4 separate regions of the Homo sapiens genome follow, and all the other regions are reported to be linked to region 1. Evidence: microRNA targets listed by miRTarBase, many of them from high-throughput screens and not tested one by one. Region 1 holds a microRNA gene; each other region holds the end of a gene's coding sequence.
Evidence for each region. The annotated mature microRNA hsa-miR-520d-3p reads AAAGUGCUUCUCUUUGGUGGGU and lies in region 1 at 1,667-1,688, opposite strand. An mRNA with a match to its seed (bases 2 to 7 or 8) in the 3' UTR can be bound and repressed. Matches are read on the target gene's strand: a 7mer-m8 pairs with bases 2 to 8, a 7mer-A1 pairs with bases 2 to 7 and ends in A, and an 8mer does both.

Region 1 (4,149 bases):
CTAGGCTGACTCTAGAGGACCACGTGAGATTAGGGGCGGTGGCTCACGCCTGTAATCCCAGCACTTTAGGAGGCCAAGGCTGGTGGATCACCTGAGGTCGGGAGTTTGAGACCAGCCTGCCCAACATGGTGAAACCCAGTCTCTATTCAAAACACAAAAATTAGCTGGGTGGGGCAGTAGGCACCTGTAATCCCAGCTACCCAGGAGGCTGCGGCAGGAGAATCGCTTGAACCCAGGAGGTGGAGGTTGCAGTGAGCCTAAATTGCAACACTGCACTCCAGCCTGGACATCAAGAGTGAAACTCCATCTCAACAACAACAACAACAATAAAAATAATAACTAGCAGGACACGATGGCGGGCATCTCTATTCCCAACTATTCGGCAGGCTGAGGTGGGAGAATCGCCGGAAGCTGGGAGGCGGAGTTTCCGGTCAACAGGGATCCTGCCGCTGCACTCCAGCCTGGGAAACGGAATGAGAGCGCATCTCAAAAAATCAAAAATAAAAAGATCACCACTTGAGCCCAAGAGATCTCGGTTGGAGGTGCCACCCACTCCCGCCTGGGCAACAGGGAACCTGTCTTGGAAAAAAACAAACCAAAGAGAACCCCAACATCATGCAAGTCTGATGATAAGCACGCTCTGCAAATGTATTACCAAGATCAGCAGCATCTTCAACGTTGCTTTTCTCAAACAGTAACACTCTAAAGGGATGCACGATCTTTTCTTAGACAACAGACAGTGCTTCCATCTAGAGGGTCACAGCATGAGGTCTTCTTGCTCCAGTACTGTAGGGTTCTTTTTTTTGTTTTTGTTTTTGTTTCTTTTTGACGGAGTCTTGCTCTGTTGCCGAGGCTAGAGTGCAATGGCACGATCTCGGCTCACTGCAAGCTCCGCCTCCTGGGTTCAAGCCATTCTCAAGCCTTAGCCTCCCGGGTAGCTGGGACTACAGGCACCCACCACCACGCCTCGCTAATTTTTTGTATTTTTAAATAGAGATGGGGTTTCACCGTGTTAGCCAGGATGGTCTCGATCTCCTGACCTCGTGATCCACCCGCCTCGGCCTTTCAAAGTGGTGGGATTACAGGCGTGAGCCACAGCGCCCAGCTTTTTTTTTTTTTTTTTTTTTTCAGACGGAATCTCACTCTGTCATCCTGGCTGGATGCTGTGGCACAATCTCGGCTCACTGCAGCCTCTGCCTCCCGGGTTCAAGCAATTCTCCTGCCTCAGCCTCCTAAGTAGCTGGGATTACAGGTGCCCACCACCACACTGGGCTAATTTTTGTTGTTATTGTATTTTTAGTAGAGACGGATTTTCACCACGTTGGTCAGACTGGTCTCAAACTCCTGACCTGAGATGATCTACCTGCATCGGCCTCCCAAAGTGCTGGGATTACAGGCATGAGCCACCATGCCCGGCTTTATTTTGTATTTTTATTCATTTGTTTATTTTTTGAGACAGAATTTCCCTGTGTTGCCCAGGCTGACCATTTGAAGCCAAGAGATATATTGGACATGTCACTGCACTCCAGCATGAGCAACACAGAGCCTTAGAATAAAAAAGCAAAACCAAAACAGAACCCCACCATCGTCCAAGTGTGATAAGCATGCTCTGCAAATGTATTACCGAAATCAGCATCAACTTCAACGTTGCTTTTCTCAAACCGTAACCCACCAAAGAGAAGCACTTTCTTTTCTTTTAGACAACAGAAAGGGCTTCCCTTTGTAGACTCACAGCTTGAGATCTTCTTGCTCCGGCACTCTGGGTTTCTTGTTGAAATTTTCCTTGACCTGGTCAAAATGGACACAAAAATAAAGATGCATTTATTGGTCCTGTTTGCATATTTTCTGGAATCTAGAACATAAACCGATACAAAGACCATCTCCAGTTCCTTGCTTCAAACGTTCAGCAGGTTAGCCTTGTTCATCGAGGGACAACTGTCCTGGGTTTTGTCTTCAAAGAGAAAAAGCAACGCCTACTACATATACCTTATATTCTCAGGAGTTAGACACCAGCCTGGGAAACATGGTAAAACCTCATCTGTAAAAATACAAAAGTTAGCCAGGTATAGAGGTGCATGCCTGTAGACACTAATTCAGGAGGCTGAGGTGGGAGGTTGAGGTTGCCGGGAGCCGAGATCACACCACTGCACTCCAGCATAGGTGACAGGGCCAGATCTTGTCTCAAAAACAAACGAACGAACAAACAAAAAATGCACACACCAACAAAAAAATGCCCAAAGTGATATAAGAGTATTCTCAGGGTGTAAAAGAGTCTTTTGTGTGTACATGATATTATATATATAAGAATATATGAAGGCCAGCCGCGGTGGCTGTCTGCAATCCCAGTACTTTGGAAAGCCAAGGTGGGCAGATCACCTGAAGTCGGGAGTTTGAGACCAGCCTGACCAACATGGAGAAATCCCGTCTACTAAAATACAACAAATTAGCTAGCCCTGGAAGTGTATGCCTGTAATCCCAGCTACTCAGGAGGCTGAGGTAGGAGAGTCGCTTTAACCCAAGAGGTGGACATCGCAGGGAGCCCAGATCACACCATTGCACTTCAGCCTATGCGACAAGAGCAAAACTCAGTCGCAAAAACATAAAAAATAATAATAATAAAAGAAACTTCCATATATTGTATGCTCACAGGAAGAATACTTCCTACACACAAGTGCTAGCTTTGGCAGCACGCATGAAAAAATTGGAATGACAAAGATTACCATGGGCCCTGCGCAAAGGTGACACTCAAATTCATGATGATCTCATATTTATCTATTTTTATTTTTTAACGTTTAATGTTTATTTAATAGTTTTATTTATTTATTTAGAGACAGAGTTTCACTCGTTGCCCAGGCTGGAATACAATGGCACAATCTCGGCTCACCACAACCTCCGCCCCCTGGGGTTCAAGTGATTCTCTTGCCTCAACCTCCCGAGCAGCTGGGATTACAGGCATGCGCCACCATGCCCGGCTAATTTTGTATTTTTAGTAGAGATGGGGTTTCTACGTGTTGGTTAGGCTGGTCTTGAACTCCCGACCTCAGGTGATCCGCCACCTCGGCCTCCCAAAGTTCTGGGATTACAGGCATGAGTCACTGTGCTCGGCCTATTTATTTAATTTTTGAAACAGAATCTCACTCTGTCACCCAGGATGGAGTACAATGGTGTGATTTCGTCTCACTGCAATCTCCTTTTCCCAGGTTCAAGAGATTCTCTTGCCGTGGCCTCCCAAGTAGCTGAGATTACAGGTGTCCACCACTGTTCCCAGCCATTTTTCCTAATTTTAGTATAGACGAGGTTTTGCCTTGTTTGCCCAGCTAGTCTTGGACTCCTGACCTGAGGAGATCCGCCTGTCCTGGCCTCTCAAAGTGCTGGGATTACAGGAGTGGACCACCGTGTCTGGCCTATTTTTTATGTTTTTGAGATGGAGTCTCACTCTTTTTGCCGAGGCTTGAGTGCAGTGGCGTGATCTCAGCTCATTGAAAGATCAGCCTTCCAGCTTCAAGCGACTCTCCTGCCTCAGCCTCCAGAGTAGCTGGGATTACAAGCATATACCACCACCATGCTGGGCTAATTTTGTATTTTTAGTAGAGATGGGGCTGCACCATGTTGGCCAGGCTGGAATCAAATTCCCGACCTCAGGTGATCCTCCTGTCTCAGCCTCCCAAAGTGCTGGAATTACAGGCGTGGGCCACTGTACTCTGCCTGGTGCCATTATTAAAACTAGGAAAAAAGAAAGATGCCCACACCTAAACAGCAAATCATTTGTTGTTCAAGTATGTCTCAAATGCAGTCTTCATCTAAAATACTAATTTGACTGGCGGCTAGGTGTGAACCAAAGAACGGTCCTTTCTTTCCTCTTGCCTGTGCATGGTTAATATTCACATGTAGTCCCAGCTACTAAGGACTGGGGAGAGGTGGAGGCAAAAGGACCTAAGCCCATTTTAGCCTGGGCAGCATAGTGAGACCCCTGTCTCGTTGCACATATGACCTGGTCGTGCAGCCAAGAGTTCAGCTGCATTTACCCAGTGAAAACTCAAAGCCATGCACTCCACCTCCGTGCCCCAGTGAAAACTCAAAGCCATGCACTCCACCTCCGTGCTCTTGCTAAGCAGGGCACATCCCATCTGCAAGGGACAATGAGGTCCC
Region 2 (4,000 bases), not on the chromosome of region 1:
AGGCTTTCGGCTGGGACTGGATCATCGCACCTAAGCGCTACAAGGCCAACTACTGCTCCGGCCAGTGCGAGTACATGTTCATGCAAAAATATCCGCATACCCATTTGGTGCAGCAGGCCAATCCAAGAGGCTCTGCTGGGCCCTGTTGTACCCCCACCAAGATGTCCCCAATCAACATGCTCTACTTCAATGACAAGCAGCAGATTATCTACGGCAAGATCCCTGGCATGGTGGTGGATCGCTGTGGCTGCTCTTAAGGTGGGGGATAGAGGATGCCTCCCCCACAGACCCTACCCCAAGACCCCTAGCCCTGCCCCCATCCCCCCAAGCCCTAGAGCTCCCTCCACTCTTCCCGCGAACATCACACCGTTCCCCGACCAAGCCGTGTGCAATACAACAGAGGGAGGCAGGTGGGAATTGAGGGTGAGGGGTTTGGGGGAAAGGGGAAGCAGGGGCATAGTCAGGGTGGGGAGTGTTTGAAGTTTGCAGATGAGAAGGTTTGACAAAAAGACAGAGAGATGTAGAGACAGTGATAGAGACAGAGGAACAAAAAGAGCAGCAGTGAGAAGGCAAAGAGAGAGGCAGAAGAGACAGACGAGGCAGAGACAAAACACTGAGAAAGAGACTGAAATGGAGTAATAAATGAAAGCCCCACACCAAGCCTCCTTTCTTCCACTGGCAAGGTGAGGGGCTTGGTATAGTTTGGGGAGATCCCCTGACTATTCAGTAGGAGAAGAAATCAAAAATCCATTCTTTTCTCCTTCTCTCCCTCCAACAGTGGCCAGGGGAAGGGGAAGTGAGGGCAGGGGCAAAAAGATTTGGGAATTTTTATTTATTTATTTATTGTGACTTTTCATTTTTTTGGTATTTGGCTTTACTGGAATAGGAGGGCCCCTGCCCACTGTGCCCCGTTTATCCCTTATTCCCCAAACCCTGCTCTCCCCAACACCTACTCACTTAAGCACTTGTATAAAGCCTCCAGGGTTGGGAATGGGAGTAAAGGGCAAGAGGGCGGACACATGAAGTTTAGTTTCTAACCCATCATCACCCTAACTCAACCTTTTCTGAGCCAAATGGCTTGAATTGAAGCCAGTTGTCATGGAAATAGTAAGAGGTTAGGGTTTAAGAGCTGGGGATGCGGGGGTGGGAGAGAGAACCCTCAACATCCAGGATCTATATAATGAGAGCTACTTTAAACCCTCAGGTCCACCCTCATGATGCTGAGTTATTTAGCCAGAGGGTGCAGCCTGCTTATGCCCAAATTCCCTCAGCCAAGAGAGAGACCAAAGAGCCTCTGGAATGGCCCTGCTCCCAGCCTCTATCTTCAGGTCAATTAGAGAGAGTATAGAGACCCCAGAGTCCCCTGGGTCTGGAAAGCGTTAGGAGAGGTCAAGAAAGGAGCAGTAAGGAGGCTGAAGGTTACAGGGCATTTGAATCCAAATCACTGCTCTGGGCTAGGGAATAGAGCCAGCAGACCAAGGTGGGAAGGATTCTGGAAGGGGGACATTTTAGTCTCCTAACCCCAAAGCTCAGGGTGGAAGAGGGGAGAACAAGGAAGCAGAGTGTATAATTATTTTTTCCTTTTATTTTTGGAATCTAACAGTACCTGGCAGCAGGGAGGGGAAAGTACAGTGGGGAAAAGCATCTGACAAGGCCAGTTAGAACAGAGGATGGGAAGGATGGAGACTCCCGGGCTTGGAAGGCTAGGAAGCAGGCAGAGACTGGTTGCCATTTCAAGTCACTAGCTAGGCCCATTCATTCCTCCCACAACCCTGACCCATTCTCCTCTGGACTCACTGTGCCTCAGTTTCTTCCCCTCAATGGAATGAGAAATGACAGCACCCGCCACAGCCAAGAGATGAATTCTGAGCACTTACCACGGGCACTTTATGGACATAAAATACCTCTCGCTGTGGGACAGATAACCAGGGCACCAGAGTAGTGGTGAAGAGATGTGAGGCTTAAGAGGAGTCACAGGCTTCAGAGTACAAGTTCCCCTCTGCCTCCCAGCTGGACAGTGCCTAGAAGCCAAGGAGTTGAGAATCTCCTGATCCACACCCTATCCTTACTTCACCACCAGGCCTCTTGGCTCCAGGCAAGAGCTTAGAGGATGTCAGGAGAGGTGGGGGTAAGAATCTTCAGCAAAACTGTCACTCTAAGTAGAGCCAGCAGTTACGGGTCTGATAAAAACAGTACTGAACTAAAGTAAAGCCCAAGCTGGTGAGCAAAACTGGATGGCTCATTCTTCCCAAGAGCATGACTCTCCCCCTTGGCCAGTTGGTGGAAGGGGCAAAGGTATGTGACCACCCTTGAGAAGGTGATGTTGGTGAGCTTTAACATCTTATTCCTATTCTTATAGTGAGAAAGTGAAACAAGATCTTTCAGTAGAGGAATGGGCAGGGCTGTTAGGCTCTTCAGCTTGCCTTCACCCATATAGCAGCTATGCTAACCCCAAGCCTCTCTGGCCCTGTTCTTCATCCTTCCTTCTGCCCCAATCCTGAAGGACAAGACACACCCGGCCATCAACACCACTCACATTTCCTTGGTGGAAGGAAAGGAACAGAGAAGTGAAGAACAGATACCTCCCTCCAAGGTCAAATGCCTCGTGATCTTGGCAGAGTAGGGATTGGGCAATAAGCATCAGGTATCTTCCCTCTACAGATTCTAGAGAGCTGGGGCATTAAATATGGGGGACACTTAGAATACAGCTCCTTAAATACCACCAAATAAAGACCTTTGTGTGTGTGTGGTGGGTGGGGGGGGGGCAGGGGTCTTTCTCTTATGAACATAAATCTGTGAGCTGAAGTCTCATTCCCCTGTTCCTCCCTACCCCCAAAGAGGCACAGAGTGAAGGGACTTGGGGGGCACAGCTCAGCAACCCAGTGGGAGTTAGCACCCCCTCCCACCTTATGATGTGTGTGGACCTGGCCAGTGCCCCTCTGAACATATCATTATTAGTGTAATTATCATTTATTTTGTGTATTTGTCACATTGTGTGCATGACAGCCTTTGTTAAGGGTGTCTGAGGAGTATGGAGCTGACAGGGGCATTGGAATGCCAGGAAAGAACTTCTTCAACTGAGATCAAGGCTTCCTGGAGGGAACCACTGCAAAAAGGCCATCAGGCAGTTTTCAAGTTATGTGACAGAGGGCAAAGACGGCCATAGGGTGCTCTGAGTTTTGGGATGGTCACATGACACAATCCAGCACTTGAACCTGAAAAAAAAAATAAAAGCGGTCAAAGAGTTTAGAATTCAGTGCTGAGCTCTTCTCCCTAATCAAGTGCCACATTTACACCTTGGAGAACCGGAGGTGAAGAGGATCTGAGACAGGAAACCTCGTGTTCAATGACTAAGAAGATGGGGTCCTGGAGCAAGACAGAAAACACTAAGGGCATGGTGGTATAAGGTTTGGGACATGCAGGCCAAGGAAGGATGGAAAGAGGACAGGAAACTGGGGGTACCTAGAACAACCCCTCTCTGAAAAGCTTGAGCCAAAACAGTCCCAAAGACAACAAGACCCCTCTCCCAGCCTCCACAGAATGGAAGATCTAAAGGTTCTCTTGAGATGATCCAGCTAGTATGGAAGATCTAAAGGTTCTCTTGAGATGATCCAGCTAGTGTCCTATTCTCCTGCAGTCCCTGTTCCTAGGTTTCCTCAACGAAGTTTGACAAAAATCTAAACCAACATAGCCAACGAACTTGCCTTGTTACACAAGAGTGGCTAAAATAGCATCTCAAATATTCTTTCAGTTCACTGTAAAAATTTTTCCCATGTACCTAGAGCACAATTCCCCAGGAATATGAGTTGGGAATGGCAAAAGAATATTGCCTGACTCACATTTTTCAAAAATAAGGAAAGCTGGCTGGGCGCAGTGGCTTACATCTGTAATCCCAGCACTTTGGGGGGCCGAGGCGGGCGGATCATGCAAGGTCCGGAGTTCGAGACCATGCTGGCCAACATTGTGAAACCTCATCTCTACTAAAATACCCAAAATTAGC
Region 3 (4,000 bases), not on the chromosome of region 1:
AATTGAAGCTCTACAAAACCATGAAAATGAGTCTGTGTATAAGGCTTCGTTAAGCTTAATTGAGAAGTATTTCTCTGTAGAGGTGAGTAATGGATGGTAATATTAATAACAACTTGGAAACATAAAGTCAAGGCCATAAGCCTTTTTTTCCCTTTTAAAAATAAGTGTCATATCTTTGTTAAATATAGTAAAATATCAGTGTGCATGGGACATAATGTACTTATTTGCCCCTCTAGTTTGGCTTGATGGTAATAAAATCTTTTTAAACTGAGATTTTAAAAGCCACCAGATTAGTTTCAAATGAACAACCTTGAGAATCTTAGAATATCTTGAGGGTAAGTTAACGGGTGTCATTGTAGGAGGTGATAGAGAAGTAGGCCAAACTCATCACCATGCTCTGGGCCTAATACAGTCTTTTCCTATTGAAAAGTGACGGTTGGGGAAGAAAAAAATCTCGGCCTGTTTGTGTTACTGTAGTAGCTAGCATTTATGAATTGGCAAAGTTTCAGAGACCCTCCCTCCTCTATGTCAAATACTATAATATCATACAGGATTAAAGGTGTAATATGCAGATCAAGACCTAGAGATTAAATACAGACTTCAGGTAGGCTGCTGCTTGGAATACTTATATCATTTTTATACTTATTTTTTAATATATTTCCAGGAAGAGGAAGATCAAAACGTTGTACCAGAAACTACCTCTGAAGGCTACACTTTCCAAGTTCAGGATGGGGCTCCTGGGACCTTTAACTTTTAGATCATGTAGCTGAGACATAAATTTGTTGTGTACTACGTTTGGTATTTTGTCTTATTGTTTCTCTACTAAGAACTCTTTCTTAAATGTGGTTTGTTACTGTAGCACTTTTTACACTGAAACTATACTTGAACAGTTCCAACTGTACATACATACTGTATGAAGCTTGTCCTCTGACTAGGTTTCTAATTTCTATGTGGAATTTCCTATCTTGCAGCATCCTGTAAATAAACATTCAAGTCCACCCTTTTCTTGACTTCACCATGCCTATGTGTTGCTTTCTAATTTGGGGCCTTTAATGTTGCTAGTGAAAGGTAACCTGTCCAAACTGATGGGATTAACCAGAGGTAGTCCTGGCTGCAGTTTTTGCAGAAGAATGAATAACATTTTCTGGAAACCCTCAGCCAGTGTCTCCTTAAGTCTCCTTGGCCAGGGAGATGGGCTAAACACCGTAAATTTAATCATAAATCTCTGCTGGAGCTACAAATGGAATTCTTTCCTCCCAAACTTCAAGGCCGAATGGGGTTCCAAGGTAAATCACGGCTGCACATGGGCCTCATCTGGGAAAGTACCCAGTTCTGTTTCGTTGATGAGGGGCATGAGGGTCCACCATGTGTCTTTTTTAAAAATGTAATTCCCAAGGGCTCCTGTACAGTGTAGGTTGATAGCCACTACTCTTTGAGATGGTGTCTCGCTCTGTCACCCAGGCGAAACCCTGTCTCTAGTAAAAATACAAAAAATTAGCTGGGATTACAGGCATGGTGGTGGGAGCCTGTAATCCCAGCTACTCAGGAGGCTGAGGCAGGAGAATCGCTTGAACTCCGGAGGCGGAGGTTGCAGTGAGCTGAGATTGCGCCACTGCACTCCAGCCTTGGTGACAAGAGCGAGACTCTTGTCTAAAAAAAAATCCCCTTTGATAATATATCTTTACCTATAACTTTAATTTTTGTATTTGTTTTTGTTGTAAGCAAGGGAGGAAAGGTAATATTCCTAATACCATTTGGCAATTATAGTAAAAACTGCTGACACTTACTTTGCTTGTTGAAATAATCTGAAAAGAGTAACATTAAAAGATGTCAGTGTTAAACATTTCACAAAGTATTCTTTCATTGCTATATTGCATTTTGGCTAAAAATAATCAGGCTACTTGATTATTTTTAGAACAAAGGAAATCAACATTCTGTTTCCTAATGTTGATTTTTTTTTTCTCTCATCAATCTGGCTGCATCATCACTGAAGAAAAAACGGGGTAATTTTTCGTTACTGTAAATCCTTATTGTTAAGATTTTTTATTTCAGCATTTGGCTGCTTTAATTGCATAACAGCAGTAAGAGCAAAGTCAGTTTTGTTCATAGGAGCCATTGGAAACCTTGTCAGATACAGGACCCAAGTTCAGAAGGCCATTAAGGCCTGGCTGCTCCTTACCCCTCTCCACCCTTGCTGGAGCTTGCCAAAACCCAGTGGACTGATTTTGGAAAGCCCTTGAAACGTGTCATTTCACTAATGGTGCTTTCTTTTGGGATTGGGCTGTTGACCTAATTTGTGATGAACAAAACCCGGCCAAATCATGCAGCCTCCCTCTAACTCCCCATGGGAAAGTGTTAGAGAAAAGTGTTTTAGCAACATCACCCATTTAAGTTTCATAACCCCAGCTAATAAAAATGATAAGAAACACCCAAGCTATCAACTAGGGTTTTTTGAGGGCAGAAGTGCAATTTAATTTTGAGCACTTGCATGTTAAATGACATGTTGGCATAGTTTGAAAGCTAATTCTAGTGTCTGAACGCTCAGTTCCTCCTAAATATTTGGGACAGTTTCATAACACTGTGTAGGAGGTGTATGCATCGAACCCTCTTAAACTGATCAGTTCGTGCGTTCCAGGCTTTTCACAATCGTAAATGTCTTTTCCCATCCTAGTTGTGGGAGGTAGCATGGTGCAGTGAAGTGGACTAGTATTTAAGAGCCAGATCTGTCTGAATTCAAATCCTGCCTCTTTATTGTGTCAGTGAAAGACCTTTTGGTGGGGCAGCTAAGTGCTGGCATAAGAAAAGTATAGATACTAATTCCTACATAATAGAAATATCCTAGATGAGTATTACGGCTATTCCAAACTTTTTGTTTTTGGGAATAGCTGTAATAACTGAAGAAACAAAGTTTCGCTGTGTTGCCCAGGCTGGTCTCAAATTCCTGGCCTCAAGCTATCCTCCTGCCTCAGCTTCCCAAAGTGCTGGGATTTGCAGGAATGAGCCACTGCACCTGGCTGCCTCCAACCTTTTAACACCAAAGATTTCTGTTTGTTCTTACATAGACTCTTGTTTTGATATATTTTACCTTCTAGGCTAAGTTGATTATTACTCTTCTTTTTTTTTCCCCCTTATCAGTCAGATACACATAACATAAGATGACCATACTGGATTGTTCATATACTTAATGATGGGATTCTACCGAAAAGTCAGATGTTTTGTCAGCCTTTAGGTCTTTTAGGGGCTTGGCATAGCTTTCTGAACAGTGGAACTGGCTCAAGGAGGGCCCACTGTGACTAAGTTCCTAGACTGGCTGTTAGCCTTTGCAGTATCTCAGTGAGAGGTCCAGCTGTCTTCCTGTGCCCACTGGTTCCCTTTCTCTTAATTCTATTGGACGTAATAATTGGAGCACCTCCTCCCCTAACTTCTCATTGGCCATGAGAACAGGACTGAACCACCCAAGTCCAACTTGGTGATGGAAGCTTGTCAGTATCAATACCTGATAGGCCCCTAATACTAGTGTTAATGAAGTTTCTTTAATGAGCAAACACTTGACTGTTGAGACAGCCACCACAAAGCCATATTTTCTACTATGAAGAAACTCATGTTTAGAACTTGAACAAGTTTAGGCAGAAATATTGGAAGCTTATCCATAAAAACAAGGGAATATGAGGAAAGATTGGATGAATGAGAAAACTTTGAATCAATTCAAAATTAAAATTAATGGTCAAAGGATGATATCCAGAAGGCATCTCCCGATTGTGGCTGCAAAAATACATATTTTAAAAGCAAAACTGTTGAAATAGAGGAGAAATGTAGAAAAACATGTACGAATGAGATGGTCTTTTTCTTTTTTTTTGAGATGGAGTTTTGCTCTCGTTGCCCAGGCTAGAGTGCAATGGTGTGATCTCAGCTCACTGCAACCTCCGCCTCCCAGGTTCAGGAGATTCTCCCGACTCAGCTTCCCGAGTAGCCAGGATTACAGACATGCACCACCACACCA
Region 4 (4,000 bases), not on the chromosome of region 1:
TCCACCTCCCAGGTTCACGCCATTCTCCTGCCTCAGCCTCCCGAGTAGCTGGGACTACAAGCGCCCGCCACTGCGCCCGGCTAATTTTTTTTGTATTTTTAGTAGAGATGGGATTTCACCATGTTAGCCAGGATGTTCTCAATCTCCTGACCTCATGATCTGCCCGTCTCGGCCTCCCAAAGTGCTGGGATGACAGGCATGAGCCACCGCGCCGGCCAAGAGCTGCTTTTTCATTTTCTGAGAAAATGTCCCTCAAGATGCTTTGCAGTGATCTTCATTCTCAGGTTGGAGAGAAAGTCTGCAGAAGAAATAGTGGCAGCCACAATCTCCAAGTAACTTTAAAACTCCGACATCATAGATCAATCAATCAAGACCCTGTTACCACTGCCTGTGACACGGCGCCTTTTCTACCTGCACGCTCAACCCGCTGTCCCACTGGCAGGGCCTGCAGTGCTGGTCCTCAGTGCAGCTCCCTGGTTAAGTTCTTGCCAATGCGCTAGGCCTCCGGTGTGCTCAGAAGAGAGCATGAAGTAAAAAGTCAGTCAATCAAAATGAAAATGATACTCTGCATTCCATTAAAATTAATAAAAATATTTTATTGAATTTCAGGAACTTGGTACTTTTTTAAAACTTCAAATCTTTGCACACAAATCACCACTATACTTTCTAGAATAGTGGAAGTTAGGACTTCAAGATTGTCACTTATCTCCTTGTGTCACACAGCACAGAAACCCCAAGTCCTCACACTGCCCCCACCCCCCTTCTGGCCATGACTACCAACTACTCTGTTATTCTAGCGGAGGACAATGACGGAAGTGGGTAGACGACTGAAGGAGATCAGCTGTCCACCGCGTACTCTACTAAAGTGAGAGGAGGAGCAACCGAGGATCATGCCGCACACACTCTGAGTGCACCACGTGACGTGGGTCATACGGGAGTTCCCTTTTGTTTTCTCGTTTGGTTCAGGGCAAAGCTACTGAAATTGTTCCTAGTCCCTGAGGAGCTCAGAAGTTGGGCAAAGGTCACAGCAGACTTCCTGAAAAGCAGACACTGAGGAACACAGTGGAGAGCGGGAGTTCACAGCGACGCAGCTGAGGACGACGCAGGACCTCTCCCAAAGGTGCTGCAGCTCCAGCACCAGGGGCCAGGGCTGCGGCGACAGCAGCTCAGCAACCCTTGCTGTGCTCAAGTTCTTGGGGATTCAGAGCTAAGTTCAAAATTTAGAAACAGTGCCTTAAAGACGGGCAAGAAAACCCGGTGTGGGAGTCTGCTCATCTATGGTTTGTTACTGCTCTCGCTTCGATATTCTTAAATTCCTAGGTACCAATGAAAAAGCCAAGTGAACGTGGCAGAGTGAGGAGGAGACAGGAGCGTGTGCACCTTCCATCTGTGAGAGGCACACTTCAGTCTGGGTTCAAGATGCAGAATGGTGCCTACGGCAAAAAAAAAAAAAAAAAACACCCTCCTCCCTTCTTTACCATTTGAATGGACATTTTCCTTACCTGTGATCCCAACAGAAACAGATCCAGACCTATCATGTGAAGTCCACGTTCCAGGATCAGAAGTAACCAGTTTATGGACTGAGCTTACACGGGAAAGTCTACCCCCGACTCCTTCTGGATAGTAACATACACAGCTGCATAAAAACGTCTCCAAGGGGACATACGATGCATTTGCTTGGTGTCCCAGCCAAGCTCCCCACCGGCGACCTCACTGTTCCTTAGAGCTCAAGAGCTCGTCTCCTATCAATCAGAGAACCCCATCAGCTGTGACCAACAGAGCTGGAGCCCTCTGTGGAGGGAGCTGACCCCACACACAGGACAGAGCAGAATCCTGATTATTTTACAAACTGCAAACCTTCTGAGTAAGAAGACAAAAATATACATTCCAAGGTATCTGTAAAGTGCTTGGAAGATGCAGACAGCTGCACCGAGGGGCTCTGATCCATCCACACGCTGCGCTTTGCTGCGGTCACACACACGGTCTCAGTCACGTGATGGTTTTGCTTTTATTTCTTAAACGGCTGAGTGATAATCCAGCTAGTGTGCAGTCATTTCATACCTTTCAATGGGCGTCACCGCAGTGACGCTGCCCCAGCCCCATGCTGAGGGCCGACACAATTCACGGAACAGATTCATCATATTTGGTCTTTATGTAAATAATAAATGTTTTAAAATTGCCTAAATATACCATTCTGAGCCATTTCATCCCTATTTCATCCCACCAGGAAAATACAGGTTTTTTCCTCTCTAAAAAAAAATTAAATACCAAAATAACTACATTTAAATAAATAATGTTATGATGATGACATTTAAAAGCTCAGCCATCAGGCTGACGCCCTCTCCCCATGTGCACGGCCCTCGGCCCTCGGCCGGCACACTCGGGAAGGGCCAGCGGTTTTCTTCCTGAGGAGCCGGGCGAGGAGGTGCAGGGACCTCCCACTCTCATTCCCTCACCCCCGTCCTGTCCTCATTTTCCGTAGAGGAGTCAGCCTCAGGATTGGGTTCGGTTCTGAAAGGTCAGGGACATTTCCTACCACAAAACAGGAAATGCCCCAGACGTGCCCTGCAGGACGTGGCTCGGACCCTGCTCCACCATGGCGGCCGCTCACCGAAGGTGGGGAGTAGACAGCAGGTCAGAGGCCGCCTAGAGCCGGAGGGACACCCCAAATACAAACATACCACGGAGAGACCTGGGATCTGAGTTTCAAAAGGGCCTGTGATAAAAGACTGAATCTTTTTCCAAATGAAGTAGAAATGGTTCTGTCGTTTTAAACATACACAATACTTAGGAGACTTGTTTTACTCAGAGTGGAAAATTTTGCCAGGGACAAAGTCAACACAAAGAAACAAACAACAAAAAATAGCCAGAAAGAGAACAGTTAAGTGCAGCTCGGTGAGTCCCGGCAGTTCCTTCCCGGCACTGGCTCGTCCCTGGGTTCTCAAGGTTCCATGCGGCCACAGCGTCCGTCCACCTGTCCACGCGAGCCACATGCTGAAATGGAGGTGGATAAAATTCATCAGGCAGCTGCTGTAACACGGAAATGTGCAGATGCCAGAGTAGCTTCGTCTGAACTTGAACAAGACAGACAAAAGGAAATCATTCCATAGGCTGAAAACAAAAACAAAACTACGTTGTTTCTTTGCCCCAAATGAAATCCACGGAAAGGGCCTGTGTGATTCTGAAAGTCTCAGTAGAAATGGAGTGATGTGAAATGCCCAAGACCCCATTATTTTGTAAAGAAAGGACACCTCAAAATACTCTAATTCCACATGTCTCCGCTGCCTGGTGGGTCCTGTGAGGGCGGCGGGGATGGCTCCCCCCGCGTCCTGAGGCCTAGTCTTGGGAGACCCACTCACAGCAGGCGCTGGCCGTGCCGTCCTCACACAGCGATGCCTGGTCCTCGCGGGAGGACAGAGTTTCACTCGTAGGTAGAAGCTCAGCCCAGCAGGTGCTCAGTGGAGACACCGTCTCCCAAATCAGGTTTTGTTGTGTGTGGGTTTTGTTCAAGTGTGACTTCTGTCTTTAAGGAGTGTTAAGGCCAGCTGGGTTTTGGGTTTTCAGTGCTGAGAGGTGAAGTCCAACCACAGGGCCCTGCACCCCCGAGTGCTGGCGGGAGGCCGCGTCTCCTTTTGGCACCACAGAGTTGATATCGTTAAAGAAAAGCTCTCCCGGTCGCTAGTTCTGGACACCCTTTTCCCTTACGGCTGCCGGTGGCGTGTCCACGCTCAGGGCAATGACGATGCCCTCGCCGTCTTCTGTCTTGATCCGCTTCAGCTCCGGCTGCTCCGGCTGGTCACCGTTGTGGCGCTTTGTGGGCAGGGAGGCCGATGCGGATGCGTGTGTTGCCAACATGTGCAAAGGACTCGCCGCGGCTGAAATGACACGAGGGAGTCAGAACCCCACGCTCTCACGTGAACCCTCGCGACTCAGAACCCCACGCTCTCACGTGAACCCTCGCGAGTCAGAACCCCACGCTCTCATGTGAACTCTCGCCCTC

Region 2: the mRNA of GDF11 is a reported target of hsa-miR-520d-3p. Seed matches in the 3' UTR shown: 7mer-m8 at 961-967, 8mer at 1,869-1,876, 7mer-m8 at 3,205-3,211 and 7mer-m8 at 3,895-3,901.
Region 3: miRTarBase lists KPNA2 as a target of hsa-miR-520d-3p. Seed matches in the 3' UTR shown: 7mer-m8 at 858-864.
Region 4: miRTarBase lists FOXK2 as a target of hsa-miR-520d-3p. Seed matches in the 3' UTR shown: 7mer-A1 at 2,883-2,889 and 7mer-m8 at 1,902-1,908.

Annotation. Positions count from the first base shown.
Region 1 is chr19:53,717,688-53,721,836 of GRCh38, reverse strand. It overlaps MIR520D (microRNA 520d), which reads right to left and starts at 1,741; the gene lies at 1,655-1,741. MIR517B (microRNA 517b) reads right to left here and starts at 761; the gene lies at 695-761. It also overlaps the pseudogene RNU6-803P.
Region 2 is chr12:55,749,626-55,753,625 of GRCh38, forward strand. GDF11 (growth differentiation factor 11) reads left to right here. Exons shown (of 3, transcript NM_005811.5): 3 at 1-4,000. The coding sequence ends at 257. It also overlaps a transcript of SARNP not described here. Among named protein-coding and RNA genes, the nearest start is that of GDF11, 8.5 kb to the left of the region's middle.
Region 3 is chr17:68,045,840-68,049,839 of GRCh38, forward strand. It overlaps KPNA2 (karyopherin subunit alpha 2), which reads left to right. Exons shown (of 11, transcript NM_002266.4): 10 at 1-82; 11 at 665-1,015. The coding sequence ends at 757. Among named protein-coding and RNA genes, the nearest start is that of KPNA2, 12 kb to the left of the region's middle. RefSeq lists a silencer at 2,401-2,601.
Region 4 is chr17:82,601,178-82,605,177 of GRCh38, reverse strand. It overlaps FOXK2 (forkhead box K2), which reads right to left. Exons shown (of 9, transcript NM_004514.4): 9 at 576-3,875. The coding sequence ends at 3,679. Among named protein-coding and RNA genes, the nearest start is that of FOXK2-AS1, 15 kb to the right of the region's middle. RefSeq lists a silencer at 2,047-2,156.